Linked DNA regions of Homo sapiens: region 1 is linked to region 2. The links come from fine-mapping of genetic effects on gene expression. Tissue or cell type: whole blood. Region 2 holds a variant in brackets; the other region holds the start of a gene. All regions are shown on one strand. Distances are between the middles of the regions.

Region 1 (8,167 bases), 49 kb before region 2:
TTTTTAAAATGTATTACTGTCATTATTATAATTAGTTTACTTATTGTTCCCCCAGATATTTTTTCAACAATGTTCTGCTAAATCTAGAGTGGCTGCTTGCTAATAGAACTTTAGCTTTTTCACAAAGCTTCCAATGTGGGAATCTAATCCATTGTCAAAAGTAGTGGCCAAAATGTCCCTACTCATTGTGGCTGTGATACAGGTGTATTGTAAAAAGATGTGATTCACACACCATTGGGGATCTCTAAGCACACCTCCATGTTATTTAGAATTTTTATTTTGGCCCAAATATCTACAAGGTAGTGGGGAGTTATGTGAGTTTCTTAGGCCATGACAACTTGCCAGCTTTAATACCTTCAGATGAGGATGGGTTACCAGCCAGCTTGGGCCCATTTTGTAGTACCCATCCAGGACAGACATACTGGTCAGGGGCAGAAATATAACAATTCAGTGGGAAAGCTGATATGGTTGGCTGAGGTGATACATTTCATGCATTTGTGTGAATACTTCCTCCTGAAGATTTGATGATTCTGGAATGGTTTGGAGACGACTTCAAAAATAACATGTTTAGTAAAAGGGAACTGTAGGACACTGAAGAACCACTGCTCAAGACCCAACATAGTCAGCTACTGGTGATAACCATTTCAGTACTTTGTTGGCTAGGACCTAGAAGTTGGGAAGACATTTATGAGAGATTATCAAAAAGGGAGAAGCTGTTGGAATCCTTATACTGTTTCATAATCAGAATTGTTGTAAGGTGACCTAGTTCTTGATAATTATCTTTAGAAAAGCAAGGGTACAGGTTAACAGAGGGGGATTTATAGGATAAGAACAGAAGGGCAGGGCAAAATCTATGTTCACAAATAGACCGACTCTCCTTGTCTTGTTGACATAGTAATCAAAAAGGGAGACCACTGAAAATTTTTGCGTATTCAAAATTATTGAAAATTTTGTCTTCCTTTTATTTTAGGGCTTGTTAAGAAAAAACATGACCCAAAATTTGGAAATAAGGCAAAAATATTACTGCCTACCTTTTCAAAGATACTGCACTAAAGAAAGCACTGTCCCACAGGACTGCCCAAGGGTTATCCAAGTCTGGGTAGCAAGGGGTCGTCTGATTCAGGCACTACCCTGAGCGGAAAACAATGGCCCAAGACCTCGACCAAACCCAGCTCTCCACCTGTTTTTGTACAGCTTTGAACTGAGAATGCTTTTTTACAATCTTAAGTGGTTGAGAAAATATCAAAAGTAGAATAATATTTTGTCACATGTAAGTTTACATGAAATTCAAACTTTAGAAGAATTTCCTCTTCACAGACATCACATCTTCAAGAGCAAATGCTTGAGCCCTAACCTGCAAGTTATAGTAGAAAAGTCCAGAAGTCCAGCCTGGTCCTCGCCAAGTTTCCAACTCCTATGCCTAGGGGTATTTTATGCTTACAGGATCTAACTTGGTTACAACGTCTAACTTTTAGCAGAGAGGCAGTGCTGAGTAGAAACTGGACTTGTTAACCATATCAAGTCACTTAAGTTGGCTAGGATCCCCTACTTAGGTAGCGGCCATAAAGCCTAGGGCATCCCTGTGCCCTCAATGGTTCACTTCTGAGTGGTGGGCTTCCTGCTCCTCAATAGAGCAATCGGCAGAAAGGCCCCTAGAAAGCTACATTGTCTTCATCCGCGAAGGATTCCCTGTCTCCTATTCCTCAAAGGAGCACCCGGATTCTACTTTCATTCTTCTTTTGCCATTGCATTTTATAACTTAAAAGAAATAGATGATTGTAACAGAAGAAAGAAAACTTTACATTGTGAGAAAATTTAGACCTAAAGCTTATAGTAATGTGAGGACGAAAGTCTATACTGTTTAAGTAAATAGGTTCTATGAGCAGCATCCAGGCTAACATCACACAGTGGTATTTTGAATTAAATTGTACTTGTGTTTTGTTTCCGTGTTTTGCTGCTGTAAGGAAAGAGGAAAGCATCCCCTTTCTCGGCCCTCCTCCCACGTCCAGGCTAATTTGCAGCATTTCTACATCTCAGAGTCCACCCTTAAGATCCTTGCCACCCATTATTTTGTTTCAGAACGCTTAATCCATCAAGGAAGGTTAAATTGGATTACCCCAGTAGGGAAGGGACGGGGGCTGTAAGCATGAGGGATTATCCCTGTAAAGGGCTCGTGGTGTGTGTGTGTGTGCGTCCTGCTAGTGTTGAATGACGGAGACCTGAGTTTGGATTCTGAATCCAGGTGTATTCGATGCCGCTCCGGCGTAGAACGGGTTAAAGATGCCCCCAGCCAGGTAGAGCCAGACTGGGAGTTGTGCAAGGTCTCAACCCCCTAAAAGCGGCCCCTCAAATTGAAGATGAGTAAATCATAGTTCGTAAATCAGAAAGATTATCCAGTACTACGTTACTCTGTTTATTTCCCTTTCGTCATCCCTGAGTCTTGGGTCAAGTCCATCCCAGCTCTGTCCTCCAGGAATCAAGGGAAATACGCAAACCCGCGGTGGGTTCGCAGCCGCAGGAAGGACAAATCTTGCCCCCGCCGCGGCGGCCGCCCCGCGTTAGCTGCCTAAGAGAATCTCCGTGGCCGGCCAGTACCCGCCTTGGTGAGGATTCTCCCTCCCGCGAGAACTTCTGGAATGCCGCCGGGCCAGATTTTGCAGCTGAGGCCTCCGACGCCACTAATATTGGGCCAAGCAGGGAGTGCTGCTCTTCCTTATAAGGTTTTAGCGAAAGTTAAGTAAGCCAATTAAAGTGCAAAACACACAGTCTGGAACAATACAGCGCTCTATAAATGGTCTCCATTATTATCATTATCCGTTAGTTATAACTGGGGATAAAAAAAAAAAAAAAACGACAAAAACCTGGAGAACCGGAAAGGTCTGCAAAAGGGGCGGAACGCGGGAACTTCGATTTGGGGAAGGGGTGGCGGGGGAGATCCCACACAAGCAGCCAATCCAGCTGTCCCGGGGAGGAAGAGGAGGAGTCAAGGCCCGCCCCTGGTCTCCGCACTGCTCACTCCCGCGCAGTGAGGTTGGCACAGCCACCGCTCTGTGGCTCGCTTGGTTCCCTTAGTCCCGAGCGCTCGCCCACTGCAGATTCCTTTCCCGTGCAGACATGGCCTCTGGCACCACCACCACCGCCGTGAAGGTGAGATGAGCCCTCCCAGCCGCAGCGGTTCGCCCTGCCGGATGCCTTCTCGCCCCCGCGCCGGGGGACCGCGCCTCCGGGGGCCATGCGCCCGGCCCGTGCGTCCCTTGCCGCCGCGGGGAGGGACTGGGGCGCGGCACTCGGGACTCACTTGCCGCGCGAGGAGAGGGTACGCTTGCAAATGATCCCCCTGCCGCACCGCCAACACACACACACACACACACACACACACACACACACACACACACACACACACCACCTTTTGGCTTATCTGCACCCGCACCCTGTAGGGCGTAGGCACCCCTTTAGAGAGAGAGGTCGTGGATGGGAGAGGCTGCACCCATGCCACCACCATTCCTGAGAACCACTCTTCTTCCAAGAAAGACACCCGGCTGGAGTCAGGAGGTGTCCGGGCGCCTGCAGCTTCTGTGACCGTCTCCTGGTGCCTTGCGGGACTCCAGCTTCCGCTCTCTGACTCTGCTTGTTGCCTGCGGCCCACGTGGGAGAACTGCTTACTTGCTCTTTTGTATGCTTCCGGCTTCTTTTTCCTCCAAACGTAGGCCTTCTCCGCGCTGAAGTTTTCCCCAGCAGCGTAATACTGTAAGAATTCTGAGACTTTCTTCGAAAAGGAGTACAGGCGTCCGTTTTTAGGGCTGCACTGTTTGGAGGCCTCTGGCTTGAAACTGCTTTGTTTTGCAGCCTTGCAAGTTAGAGTTCAATTTCCTTGTGCCCTAGGCCCTGAGAGGCCTTGATACAAGGGGTCATTGTGCGGTGGGAAGCTTTGTGCTGAGGAGGGCACGAGTTCTGAGAGTAGCAGCTGGCTTCCCTGGGGTTTTAAACACTTCTCTCCTGGTTAGTATTCCGAGAGAGAATTACAGCACGTAAAGAAAAATTGATGATAAAACTTAAGACCTCTTCTAGGCAGTTTATTACTGGCTAAGAATGCGTTCTTGTTTGATTTTTAGAAATTTTTGGCCTATGGGATAGGAAGGTCTGCGATCTTCTCCAAAGCATCTCGATTCCCTACACTCGACTGCAGTTTTCCCGGGAGAAGGCGAATTTCTGCGGTCAGTGTGTAATCAGCCAGATTAGTTTATTACGCCCTTGCAGGTTTAAATGAGCCACTTAGAATGAGAGGAATGGTGAAGGGTGTTGCATCCAGACTTATATATGAAACTTATTTTGTCATTTTGAAAAGAATCTTGCATCCAGCAAATATTTATAGAAGGCCTCTCCCCTGCCTTCATTGTTTGGCGGAAACAAGGCAGAAATGGTTTTCATGAAACTCGTGTGAAGTATGTGACTTCTCTTAGGTGCTCATCTATAAACTGAGAATTTTACTGCAGAATTTGCTAGGAGGGCTAGAATTATATTGTCTATGTTGCACATGGTAGAAGCTTATTAAGTGGTAGTGCTTATAAGTGGGGGAACTGAGATTAATTTTGAATGATCTTTTCCCCAAAAATTATTAAGTTATTGTGTTAGGTATCATTAGGCCACAACTTTTCACCTTATCCTTGCAGGAATACACTTCAAGCGCCATTAAAAATGGAGAAATGGTGTTTAAAACAGTCTTACTTTAATCTGGTTAGCATTCTCCCTGCCACAGGGTTTCCCTTCAAATTAATGCAGTGCATTTAAGTGCAGAATGGGCAATGGGATTCTCAGAGACCTGATGTAAATATTGAATAGTGTGTATTTTTGGTCTTGGCAAGCTTCTGGATATAAAATTAAGAGGTACATATGGTGCTAGGACTGCCTGCTGATTTCTCTTTTAATTTAGAACAGATGACAGCTTTGCCGTAGAGATTCCATGATGCCAGCACCGTATTCCCCAGACTTCTAAGGCAACATTCTGTATAGAAGATGTGAGGTGCCAGTGTCCAGAGCAAAATAGGTTAATAAAAACCACATCCTATTCCCAAATTATAGAATGATGGGGCTGGAGTGTTCCTTCAAGACCATCCATATAGCCACACAAACCCGTTTTGCGGGTGTAAAGTTGAGGCCCAGAAAGGTCAGCTAAGTATCCAGAATTACACAGCTGGACCTAGATAATGACAGAATTGGGCCTAGAGCCTGGCATTCCACCAACTAGATGTGAGGCATTTCTGAAATCTGAAGTGTGGTCTCTGCCCTGTTTTCTTGTGACCTAATGCACAATTAAAATGAGCACTTGATAGAATGTCCATCTTGAAGAGGGAGGCAGAGGGTATGCAGAAAGCAGGCTGCCTCCAGTGCCCACTGCACACCACCCAGGTATAGGTATAGGAGGCACATGTGTGTCTGAACCCCATTGGTGTCACTGGCAGGTCCTTTGAGAGGTTGCTGGATTTAAATACAGTAACATGTAACACACTCAGCCCAGTTCCAGGTACTCCTTTAATGTCAGCCCAAGTACCTCTCTTCTTAAAATAGAGATATTAACGGGGTGGATCTTAAATTCATTCTCAATTTTAGAGGTGCAGTTAACTCATGCAAGTGAAAGATTCCACTGAGTTTTGGATTGGCAGTATATTTGGCATATCTTTCAAATCTAGCCATCTACTGGTGGAATCCTATTCAAAAATATTTATTGAATACCTGCTAGACAATGGGGATGCAGCTTTGAGTAAGCGAGGCCTTTATTTATTTTCTTCAAGTTTATATTCTAGTCAGGGTGGGAAACCAACTGACATGAAAGTGAAACAGCAGTAAGATTCCATTGGGTGAGGGGTGTCAGAAAAGACTCCTAGGGAGGTGGATTTTAAGCTGTGCAGTAGTCTGCCTCCAAAATCTGTATGTTGAAACCTAATCGCCAATGTGATGGTATTAGAAGATGGGGCCTTTGGGCGTGATTGGGGTCATAAAGGTGGAGCCCTCATGAATGGAAGCAGTGCCCTTACAAAAGAGGCCCCAGAGAGCTGCCTTATTCCCTCTACTAAGTGAGAGGACACCATCTATGAGCCAAAACGTGGGCCTTCCTCAGACACTGAATCTGCTGTGACCTTGAACTTGCTAAGCCTCCAGACTATGAGAAATTTCTGCTGTTTATAAGCCACCCAGTCCTAAGATATTTTGTTATAGCAGCCTGAATGGACTTAAGCTGATAGTGAAAATAGGGATAAAGGGTAAAGATCCAAGTGAAGACCTGAGGAGAGAGATGGGGGTAGGAGAGCGAAAACCAAGATGTCGCAGAAGTGAGCTCAGTGTGGTAGGAATGGAAATCACGGATGCACAGTGAGAATTGGGTGGATGCAGCTCATAAGGCCATCCTTGTAGACCGCGATCAAGAATTTTGATTTTAAATGTTTTGGAAACTGTTGAAGGGTTAAGAGTGGGAGGCAGCATTTGATTTACATTTTAAAATGATTACTCTGGCTGTTGTATACAGAATAGCCTGTGGGCAGGGGAAGAGCTAAGAGATCAGGCCAGAAGTCTTGGTGCTGGGGCTGAAGTCTAGGGTGGGAGCCATGGAGGTGGTGAGGAATAATCAGATTGGGGATAGAATTTGCAGGTAGAACACAGAGATGGATAAGATGTGGGGAGTGCAGGAAGAAGAACAGGATGATTTCTGCTTTTGACCTGGAAAACCAAAAAGATGATGATACTGGTGGATCATTTCAAAGTGGGCGATAAGGGGCCACGAGTGACTCCTTGGAGCCAAGGAGGGTGAGTGTAGGATTCCTTCCTCCCAGATACTGCTGGTTAGGGGGCCAGAGGCTGGGATGCTGAGGGGCCTCTTTGCTGTAGGAGCAGAGTGGGTGGCAGGTTGAGGGAGGGAGGAAGCCACCTGGAGTGAGAGTAATTCAAGCAATCTTTTTTGTGGTTCACTGCAGTGAGAGATGGTCCAGGCAGGGAGTGAGGATATTACCTGGGGGGTAGCCATGGAGAGAGGCAGCAGGAGCCAGAGGCTATGGGATTAACACTGCCATTGTCTGAGAGGACCTCAGGGAGACATTGTCCTCCAGCATCAGCCAAGGGCAGGTGGTATTCCTGACAGAGGGCCAAACCAGTCTTTGGCACCCAGATACAGGGCATTCTGGAGGGCTCCTGCAGTGTACCATGGCTCCCCTGGGCAGCCTCCCAGCTTTCATTCTGGGAGATTAAAAATAAGACTTGGCCAGGCGCGGTGGCTCATGCCTGTAATCCCAACACTTTGGGAGGCCCAGCTGGGCAGATTACCTGAGCTCAGAAGTTCAAGACCAGCCTGGGCAACATGGTGAAACCCCATTTCTACAAAAAATACAAAAATTAGCCAGGCACGGTGCTGCACGCATGTAATCCCAGCTACTCAGGAGGCCAAGGTGGGCGAATCTCTTGAGCCCAGGAGGCAGAGGTTGCAGTGAGCAGAGACTGCGCCATTGCACTCCAGCCTGGGCGACAGAGTAAGATCCTGTCTCAAAATAATAATAATAATAACAACAACTTGTTAATCATGGTTGCTGTGACAAGGAGGGGATATGGTCCCATTGTAGGTTGGTAGTGAGCTATCAACATAATGATATTAAGGGAGATGGACAAGTCATGGTTTGTAGACTGTGGAATATGGGCCTTTACACTCCCTGCTTTGCTGTCTTGAGTGTGGCCTGCAAGGGCCTTCAGCCTGAGAGTCCTTGTGTGGCTATCTGAAACTGAGGACAACCTGCAGGCCCCAGTTGAAAATCACATGACCAACAAGCCTTCATTTTTTTTGCCTAGGGACACAAGGGCATTTTGGGCAGGACAATTATTTCTTTTGTAGGACTGTCCCAAGCATTGCAGGACATGGAGTACAACCCTTAACCTCCTCCACAGAAATGCCAGTAGCACTCCCCCTAGTCATGACAGCCAGAAATAGCCCTGTTTCCAGATACCCCCAGGAGAGCTGTTTGACATTTAGTTGAGGACCCCAAGGCTAAATCCCAAAAAAGACTACCTGCTGAAGAGAGGTAGGAGCAGCCAGGTTTTGTACTGCTCAGCAGAGTAAAAGGAGGAAATAAGGGCTTTTTTTGTTGCTTTGAGGAAGTTTATTTTGATTTTTTATTTTTGCCAGGAGTGG
Region 2 (8,203 bases):
TGTCAAAGGCAAGGTGGGCATAGCTACCATAATGGGCAGCAGAGGCAAAGCGGCAATCAGAACAGTCTGACTCGTGTAAAGCTCTGGCACTGGCTAATTAATCACAGCATTCCTAGAAGTAAAATTCATAGGAGGCCTACTGCATTCCTACTTAATTTACATAAGCAGAAACTTCTAGGTCAAATGGACAAAAAACTAATTTGAATTATAAAAACAGACTCACAGCCCCTCAACCAATTTCCAGACTTGAGCTAGTTTACAGACCCAGAACCCCTTGAATGAAGGGGAGGCCAGGTCCCGTTGAGGAAGGACCCCACTATATTACCAACAATTTATGCTGTGAATCTTTCTCCCGTCCTTCCCCAAGGAGACCTCCGACCTTTTACCAGGGTAACTGTGCACTGGGGAAAGGGAAATAATCAGACATTTCAGGGACTACTGGACACTGGCTCTGAGCTGATGTTGATTCCAGGGAACCCAAACTGTCATGTGGTCCTCCAGTTAAAGTAGGGGCTTATGAAAGTCAGGTAATTAATGGAGTTTTAGCTCAGGTCTGACGTGCAGTGGGTCTTATGGGTGCCTGGACTCATCCTGTGGTCATTTCCCCAGTGCCAGAATGCATAACTGGCATAGACATACTTAGCAGCTGGCAGAACCCCCACACTGGCTCCCTGACTGGTAAAGTGATGGCTATTACAGTGGGAAAGGCCAGATGGAAGCCATTCGAGCTGCCTCTACCTAGAAAAATAGTAAAGCAAAAACAATACCACATCCCTGGAGGGATTGCAGAGATTAGTACCACCATTAAAGACTTGAAAGACGCAGGGATGGTGATTCCTACCACATCCCCATTTATCTCTCCCATTTGGCCCATACAGAAGACAGATGGGTCTTGGGGAGAATGACAGTGGATTACAATAAGCTGAACCAAGTGGTGACTCCAATTGCAGCTGTTGTACCAGATGTGATTTCATTGCTTGAGCAAATTAACACATCTCCTGGTACCTGGTATGCAGCCATTGACTTGGAAAATGCCTTTTTCTCTATATCTGTCCATAAGGACCACCAGAAGCAATTTGCCTTCAGCTGGCAAGGCCAGCAGTATACCTTGACTGTCCTACCTCAAGGGTATATCAACTCTTCAGTTTTGTGTCATAATCTTATTCAGAGAGAACTTGATCGCTTTTTGCTCCCACAAGATATCACAATGGTCCATTACATTGATGACAGTACGCTGATTGGATCCAGTGAGCAAGAAGTGGCAAACACACCAGACTTATTGGTGAGGCATTTGCATGCCAGAGGATGAGAAATAAATCTGACTAAAATTCAGGGACCTTCTACCTCAGTAAAATTTCTAGGGGGTCCAGTGGTGTGGGGCCTGTGGAGATACTCCTTCTAAGGTGAAGGATAAGTTGCTGCATTTGTCCTCTCCTGCAACCAAGAAAGAGGCACAATGCCTAGTGAGCCTATTTGGATTTTGGAGGCAACACATTCTTCATTTGAGTGTGTTACTCTGGCCCATCTATTGAGTGACCCAAAAGGGTGCCAATTTTGAGTGGGTCCAGAACAGGAGAAGGCTCTGCAACAGTTCCAGGCTGCTGTGCAAACTGCTGTGCCATTTGGGCCATATGACCCAGCAAATCCAATGGTCCTTGAGGTGTCAGTGGCAGATAAGGATGCTGTTTGGAGCCTTTGGCAGGCCCCCATAGGTGAATTACAGTGGAGCCCTCTAGGATTTTGGAGCAAGGTCCTGCCATCTTCTGCAGATAACTATTCTCCTTTCGAGAGACTGTCCTTGGCCTGTTACTGGACTTTGGTGGAAAGTGAACTTTTGACTATGGGTCATCAAGTCACCATGCGACCTGAACTGCCTATCATGAACTGGGGGCTTTCTGACTCATCTAGCCATAAAGTGGGTTGTGCACAGCAGCATTCAGTTATCAAATGGAAATGGTATATATATGACTGGGCTCAAGCAGGTCCTGAAGGCACTTTGCTGTGCCCGTGCATGGCCTCCATCCTTGCCACCTGGACACTTTGGGCTCCTCCTGCCTTTAAGTCAACAGGCTAAGAAGGGAGTTACAGTGCTGGCTGGGGTGATTGACCCAGACTATCAAGATGAAATCAGTCTACTACTCCACAATGGAAGTAAAGAAGAGTACACATGGAATACAGGAGATCCATTAGGGTGTCTCTTAGTATTACCATGCCCTGTAATTAAGGTCATTGGGAAACTACAACAGCCCAATCCAGGCAGGACTACAAATGACCCAGACTCTTCAGGAATGAAGATTTCAGTCACTCCACAAGGAAAAAACCACAACCTACTGAGGTCCTTGATAAAGGCAAAGGGAATACAGAATGGGTAGTAGAAGAAGGTAGTCATCGATACCAGCTACAACCATGTGACCAGCTACAGAAATGAGGACTGTAATTGTCATGAGTATTTCCTCCTCCTTTTGTTAAAAACATGTTTGTGCATATATACAGTTGTACTAAGAAAATATCTTCATTGTATTTTCTTTCTCCTTTATCATATGACATGAGATTTATTGACTTCACATCAACATTTAAGTATTGCTAACTTTATGTAGTAGTATTTGGGTTGGTGTTTGGTGCATTTCCAGTTGCACAAAGGATAGCTGTATTATGTTACGTGTAATTATGACCTTATTATTGTCTTTATTTGAAGATTATGTATGATCTCAGGAGATGTGTATGGATTCATGTGGACTTGTGATGGTTAACACTGAGTGTTAACTTGATTGGATTGAAGGATACAAAGTATTGATCCTGGGTGTGTCTGTGAGGGTGTTGCCAAAGGAGATTGACATTTGAGTCAGTGGGCTGGGAAAGGCTGACCTAGCCTTAATCTGGGTGGGTACAATCTAATCAGCTGCCAGCATGGCTAGGATATAAGCAGGCAGAAAATTGTTAAAAGAGAGACTAGCCTAGTCCCCCAGTCTACATCTTTCTCCCATGCTGGATGCTTCCTGCCCTCCAACATCAAACTCCAAGTTCTTCAGTTTTGGAACTTGGACTGTCTCTCCTTGCTCCTCAGCCTGCAGATGGCCCATTGTGGGACCTTGTGATCATGTGAGTTAATACTTAATAAACTCCCCTTTATTAGTTATGTCCCTCTAGAGAACTCTGACTAATACAATGGAATACTACTTAGCCATAAAAAAGAACAAAATGATGGCATTTGCAGCAACCTGGATGGAGTTGGAGACCATTATTCTCAGTGAAGTAACTCGGGAATGGAAAACTAAATATCGTTATGTCCTCATTTGTAAGTGGGAGCTAAGCTATGGGGATGCAAAGGCATAAGAATGATATAATAGGGCCGGGCGCAGTGGCTCATGCCTATAATCCCAGCACTTTGGGAGGCCGAGGTGGGTGGATCACAAGGTCAGGAGTTCAAGACCAGCCTGGCCAAGATGGTGAAAGGGGTCTCTACTAAAATACAAAGAAAAGAATTAGCTGGCCGTGGTGGCGGGTGCCTGTAATCCCAGCTAATCAGGAGGCTGAGCCAGAGAACTGCTTGAACCCGTGAGGCAGAGGTTGCAGTGAGCCAAGATCGCACTAATGCATTCCAGCGTGGGCGACAGAGTGAGACTCCATCTCAAAAAAAAAAAAAAAAATGATGTAATGGACTTTGGGGCCTCTGGGGGAAGTGGGAGAGGAGAATCAGGGATAAAAGACTACACATTGGGTATAGTGTACATTTCTTGGGTGACAGGTGCATCAGAATCCCAGAAATCACTACTAAAGAACTTATATACATCACAATAAACCACTTGCTCCCCAAAAACTATTGAAATGAAAAAAAAAAAAAAGCCTGGTAATAATGGTTTCCCTTGGGAAGGGACAGTGGTTTTCCTTGTACTATTTAAGTTTTGTACCATGTACAAATACGTGTTCCAAAAGCAGTGTTACTTCTATTCATTTTAGGAGTTAATATGAAAGTCCTGACATTAAATCTGTTTAGGCTGGTGATCTAATATTGCTAGTTCCTTGGTGAGGGTTGTGGTACTTTCACTACCACATCCGTCTGTTTAGTAGTTCAGTGATTACACGAGGTAAGAAAATGAAATCATCTTAAACTCAGACCTGGACCTTGACCCTGTATTTGATATTTTTTGCTGCCTTAAGATAGTGTTAGCTGTTCTTGAAGGAATGCAAAATGCTGGTTCAGGTGGCTGACATATATTCATAGCCTCCATTTCTTCCTCCTCCTCATAAGCATGGTACCTATCTCCCAAAGTGCCAGAGTGACAGTGAGGACTTGTCAAGAGCCATTCATCTCTAGAAGCACTGTGAACTTTAGCCAAGCATATGGTTCAGTTATTCAGGATCTTTAAAGACATTATTGAACCAGC[G/A]GGAGTGGGCTTGTTATGTCTTAACTTTAGGGGGGAAAAGGGGGTGGGGTAGAGATTTAGGCTTTTGCATTTATAACATATACTTTTTAGGGAAAAGTGTTAATTAAGCATAATTTTATTTTCAGCATTTATAAGATAAACATGATGTAGCATCAACTGTTCATTGTCCATAGCTTGCTAAATTTTGAGTTGCCAAGACTCTTGTGAAAATTCTGTTTCCCATTGCAGTGGCATAGTGTAAGTTATTTTTTAAGGAAATAGGTTAATTTGTTTATGTGATGAACACATGTGCAGGTGAGACTTTGCCCAGATTGGAGACTTTGACTTTGAGTCACTCCACTTTATTTATATAGTATCCCAGGAAGGTTAGCCAAATATGTGTAGAAGCTGCCAGTATTAATGATTGTTAGAAGACCAGCTTAGTGCATACAGTGTTTACAGCGCACCTGGCATGCTTCTATGCTTGTATATACCTTAGTTCATTTAATCTTCCTCATACAATTGAATTATGCGATATCATTATTCTCAATTTACACTTGAGAAAACTAAGGCATACAGAGATGATTTTTCAACAGTGCTTCAGTAAGTTAACAGTTAAGTTGAAAAGACTTTTTTTTAATTAAAAGGGAATATTGAATAAGCTAAGAAAAAATGAAGGTAATTAATAACTTGAAGATTAGATGTGCAGTATTAAATAAAACACTGGAGAAAAGGATCGAACTTTTCAATGATGTTTCTAAAAATCCATGCCTAGCCTTGCCACTAAAGGAATTCCAAGATGTTTATCCCTGTGAACAGAAAAACAATCAGCACAACTCTGTGGAAAGGCAATAGGCAAAAGAGAAATCACTTTCTAACCAGCAAAAGCTTTTACAGAAGTCTTCAGATTCTGTATTTTTAAAAGTAATGAGAATTAACTTTTCAGAAGCCTGGAAATAGAACTCAACACACCTGTTTGAGAAGATAAGCGACGAGAGGCACCTTAGCTTAGCCTGCGAGGTTAAAAGTTAAGACTCCAGTCTGTATTCTCAAACCAGCTTAGTCTCTTAAAGTTGTTAAGAAGCAAATGAGATTAAAGCATATAAACAAATGCCTGGCGAGTAGAAAGAGCTCAGTGCTTGCTTGTGTAGCTATTAGTTTCTACATGCAAAGGGCTGGGGAAACAGGATTATGTGAATGAGAAAGGGTCCAGGAAACACCCTTCTGTGGTCCTCTAGGTTTTTTCTGAGAGCCTGGCAGATAGTAGGCATTTATTATAGTGACAAATCATCTTTAAGAAATCAACTTGGTAAACATTGGGGGGAAGTGCAGCCTTAAGTTGTGCATGTGCTAGTATGTTTTGAAGTTTCTGGTTTTTCTTTTCTAGGTTCTTATAGAGACTGCTAAGAAGCTAGGACTCCGGTGCCACTCAAAGGGGACAATGGTCACAATCGAGGGACCTCGTTTTAGCTCCCGGGCAGAAAGCTTCATGTTCCGCACCTGGGGGGCGGATGTTATCAACATGACCACAGTTCCAGAGGTGGTTCTTGCTAAGGAGGCTGGAATTTGTTACGCAAGTATCGCCATGGCGACAGATTATGACTGCTGGAAGGAGCACGAGGAAGCAGTAGGTGGAATTCTTTTCTAAGCACATATAGCATGGGTTTCTGGGTGCCAATAGGGTGTCTTAACTGTTTGTTTCTATTACGTTAGTTTCAGAAAGTGCCTTTCTACAAGGTTTTGAAGTTGTTAATATTTTCTGTAGTTCCATTGGAAGGTAAGAACAAAGATCAAAGGAAAGAAAGAGACACTTTTACCCAAGGATCAGTAGTGAAAATAGTACATTGTAGGCAGGTAGATGTGTTGAGAATCATACTAAGACTTGGGCCTTATTTTCAGGATAAAGGTGTATTTTGATTGCCAATTTCTGCTGCTATGCTACTGTTTTTTGTTTTCAAGAAGGAAAAAAATCTATTAACCCTTTCCTCATGAGAGGGCTGTATGTTCACATCCATCTATTTAACGTACCGTGGCTGGATACTCTGTTCAGCATAGAAATGTGACAACAAACAGAGAAGTCCTTAAGGAGCCGACATTCTGTCGGATGGAGATAGAAGTTAAGCAAACCAATATAAGAAAGCTAACGGTTATAAAGAAATAGAATGGTGAGGTACAAGGGTACACTAGGTCAACTGAATAGAGTTGACCAGACCAAATATTTGAAGTATGAGAAGCCTTCCTGTTTTAAGTGTGATGGGCAAGAAGGGCATGATTGAGTAGAGTGGAAAGGAGGGAGACTGGGGAGAAGGGAGAGAGAGGAGGGATGCAATACAGTAGGGCCAGGCCATACAGACCATGGTAAGGGTTTCAGATGGAAGGACAGTGAGGGGTTCAGGCAGGGAAGGCAGCAGGATCCAGCTGGAATTTGAGGACACTGGAACAATGAGGTCAGCTTCCAAAACAAAACAAAACAAAACTTTAAACATCTGTGTAAGTACAGGGTGGAATATAATGAATTCCAGGTACCCATCACTTAGGTTCCACAATTAGCCATGGCCAATCTTGTGTGATAGGTATGTCCCTACCTATTTCTCCCCTGCCCTCATTGTGAAGTAAATATTTTCCTAAAAGGTCTTTTTAAAATTAAGTTATAACCATGCCATCATTGTACAAAAATAATGATATTAATTTCTTAATATAATCAAATATTCAGACTATTCCTTTTTCCTTCAGTCTCATAATTTTTAACAATTTGATCAAATCAGAATCCCTTACAATCCATATGTTGTATTTTAATGATTACCTCTTGTCTCTTTTAATCTAATTTTCACCTCTTTCTCTTTTTATTCCTTGTGTTACTTGAATAAACTAGATCGTTCGTCCTGTCATTTATCTCATTTTAAGATAAAGGGACGACAAAACTGCAGTCACTTTTGAAGTAAGGAAAACATTTAGGGGTGACTTTCTGAGCACATTTAGGGTAAGTGACATCTCCAAAGAGGCCTAATATTGTACCACCGTTTTAGAGAGTTTGTTTTACTATCTAATGTGTACAGTGTTTTGGGTCATAGATGAACACAGGTTCTTTGTTTTTCATGAATTCCTTATGATGACTCTTCAGTGTAATAAACTGTTTGCTTAGTACTAGGATGCCTTTTATGTAAGAGATTCGCAAATTATTACATTAAGTCACAACATAATATCTTATTTGGCAGCTTTGGTAACCTAAGGAACAACTCAGCCTCGTAATGTCAAGAAGCTGCTTCCAATTAATAGGAAACTCCAGCCCCTGCCACACCCTGAGAGCGGTTTGCTTCCTGCCTGTGGCTTTCTGCTCAGTCTAATAACATATGTCTCCTCCTTTGTAGAACCAGCAGTGATTTCCTTTAGTAGCCAAATGAGGTTGGGGAAATAGTCAGCTGGAGCTACTTTATTGAAAAGCAGAGAAATTAAGCTCTGTAAGTGGAAAGGCTTGAAGACAGTGTTAAATGCTACAAGGAAGGCCCACAGAAAGATGGCATTATTTCAGCCAATCGTGTGTTGCAGCCTGGCATGGCAAAAAGGATTTGGAGTTCTCTAAACCCATCTTCAGATTTGAGTTGCTCCATTTGCTTGTCACATTGGGCGAGTTATTTCACTTGTTTACTCTTCTGTAGAATGAAGCCAGGGCTCTGGGTGAGGAGTGGAGGTTGTTTAGTCATTGTTTAGTCAGTTAGACCTTGAAAGATTACTGGAAGAATTAAACCAAATGAGATATGTAAAAAAGCTAGTATAATGCTGGCTTGTAAGAGGGTGGTCATCAGATGGTGGCTCTGATGGAGTGGGGGGCCTGAGAGGTG

The links. PIP is the estimated chance that this variant, and not a neighbour inherited with it, causes the effect.
Region 1: it holds the start of MTAP, and the variant in region 2 is fine-mapped to the expression of MTAP in whole blood (TOPMed, PIP above 0.99).

Annotation. Positions count from the first base shown.
Region 1 is chr9:21,799,635-21,807,801 of GRCh38, forward strand. It overlaps MTAP (methylthioadenosine phosphorylase), which reads left to right and starts at 3,002. Exons shown (of 8, transcript NM_002451.4): 1 at 3,002-3,147. The coding sequence starts at 3,115. RefSeq lists enhancers at 1,881-2,511, 2,512-3,140, 3,635-3,844, 5,503-5,647, a silencer at 3,185-3,344 and a cis regulatory region at 5,575-5,576.
Region 2 is chr9:21,848,880-21,857,082 of GRCh38, forward strand. It overlaps MTAP (methylthioadenosine phosphorylase), which reads left to right. Exons shown (of 8, transcript NM_002451.4): 6 at 5,752-5,991. Among named protein-coding and RNA genes, the nearest start is that of MTAP, 50 kb to the left of the region's middle. The variant G/A (reference allele first, on the strand shown) is at 4,386.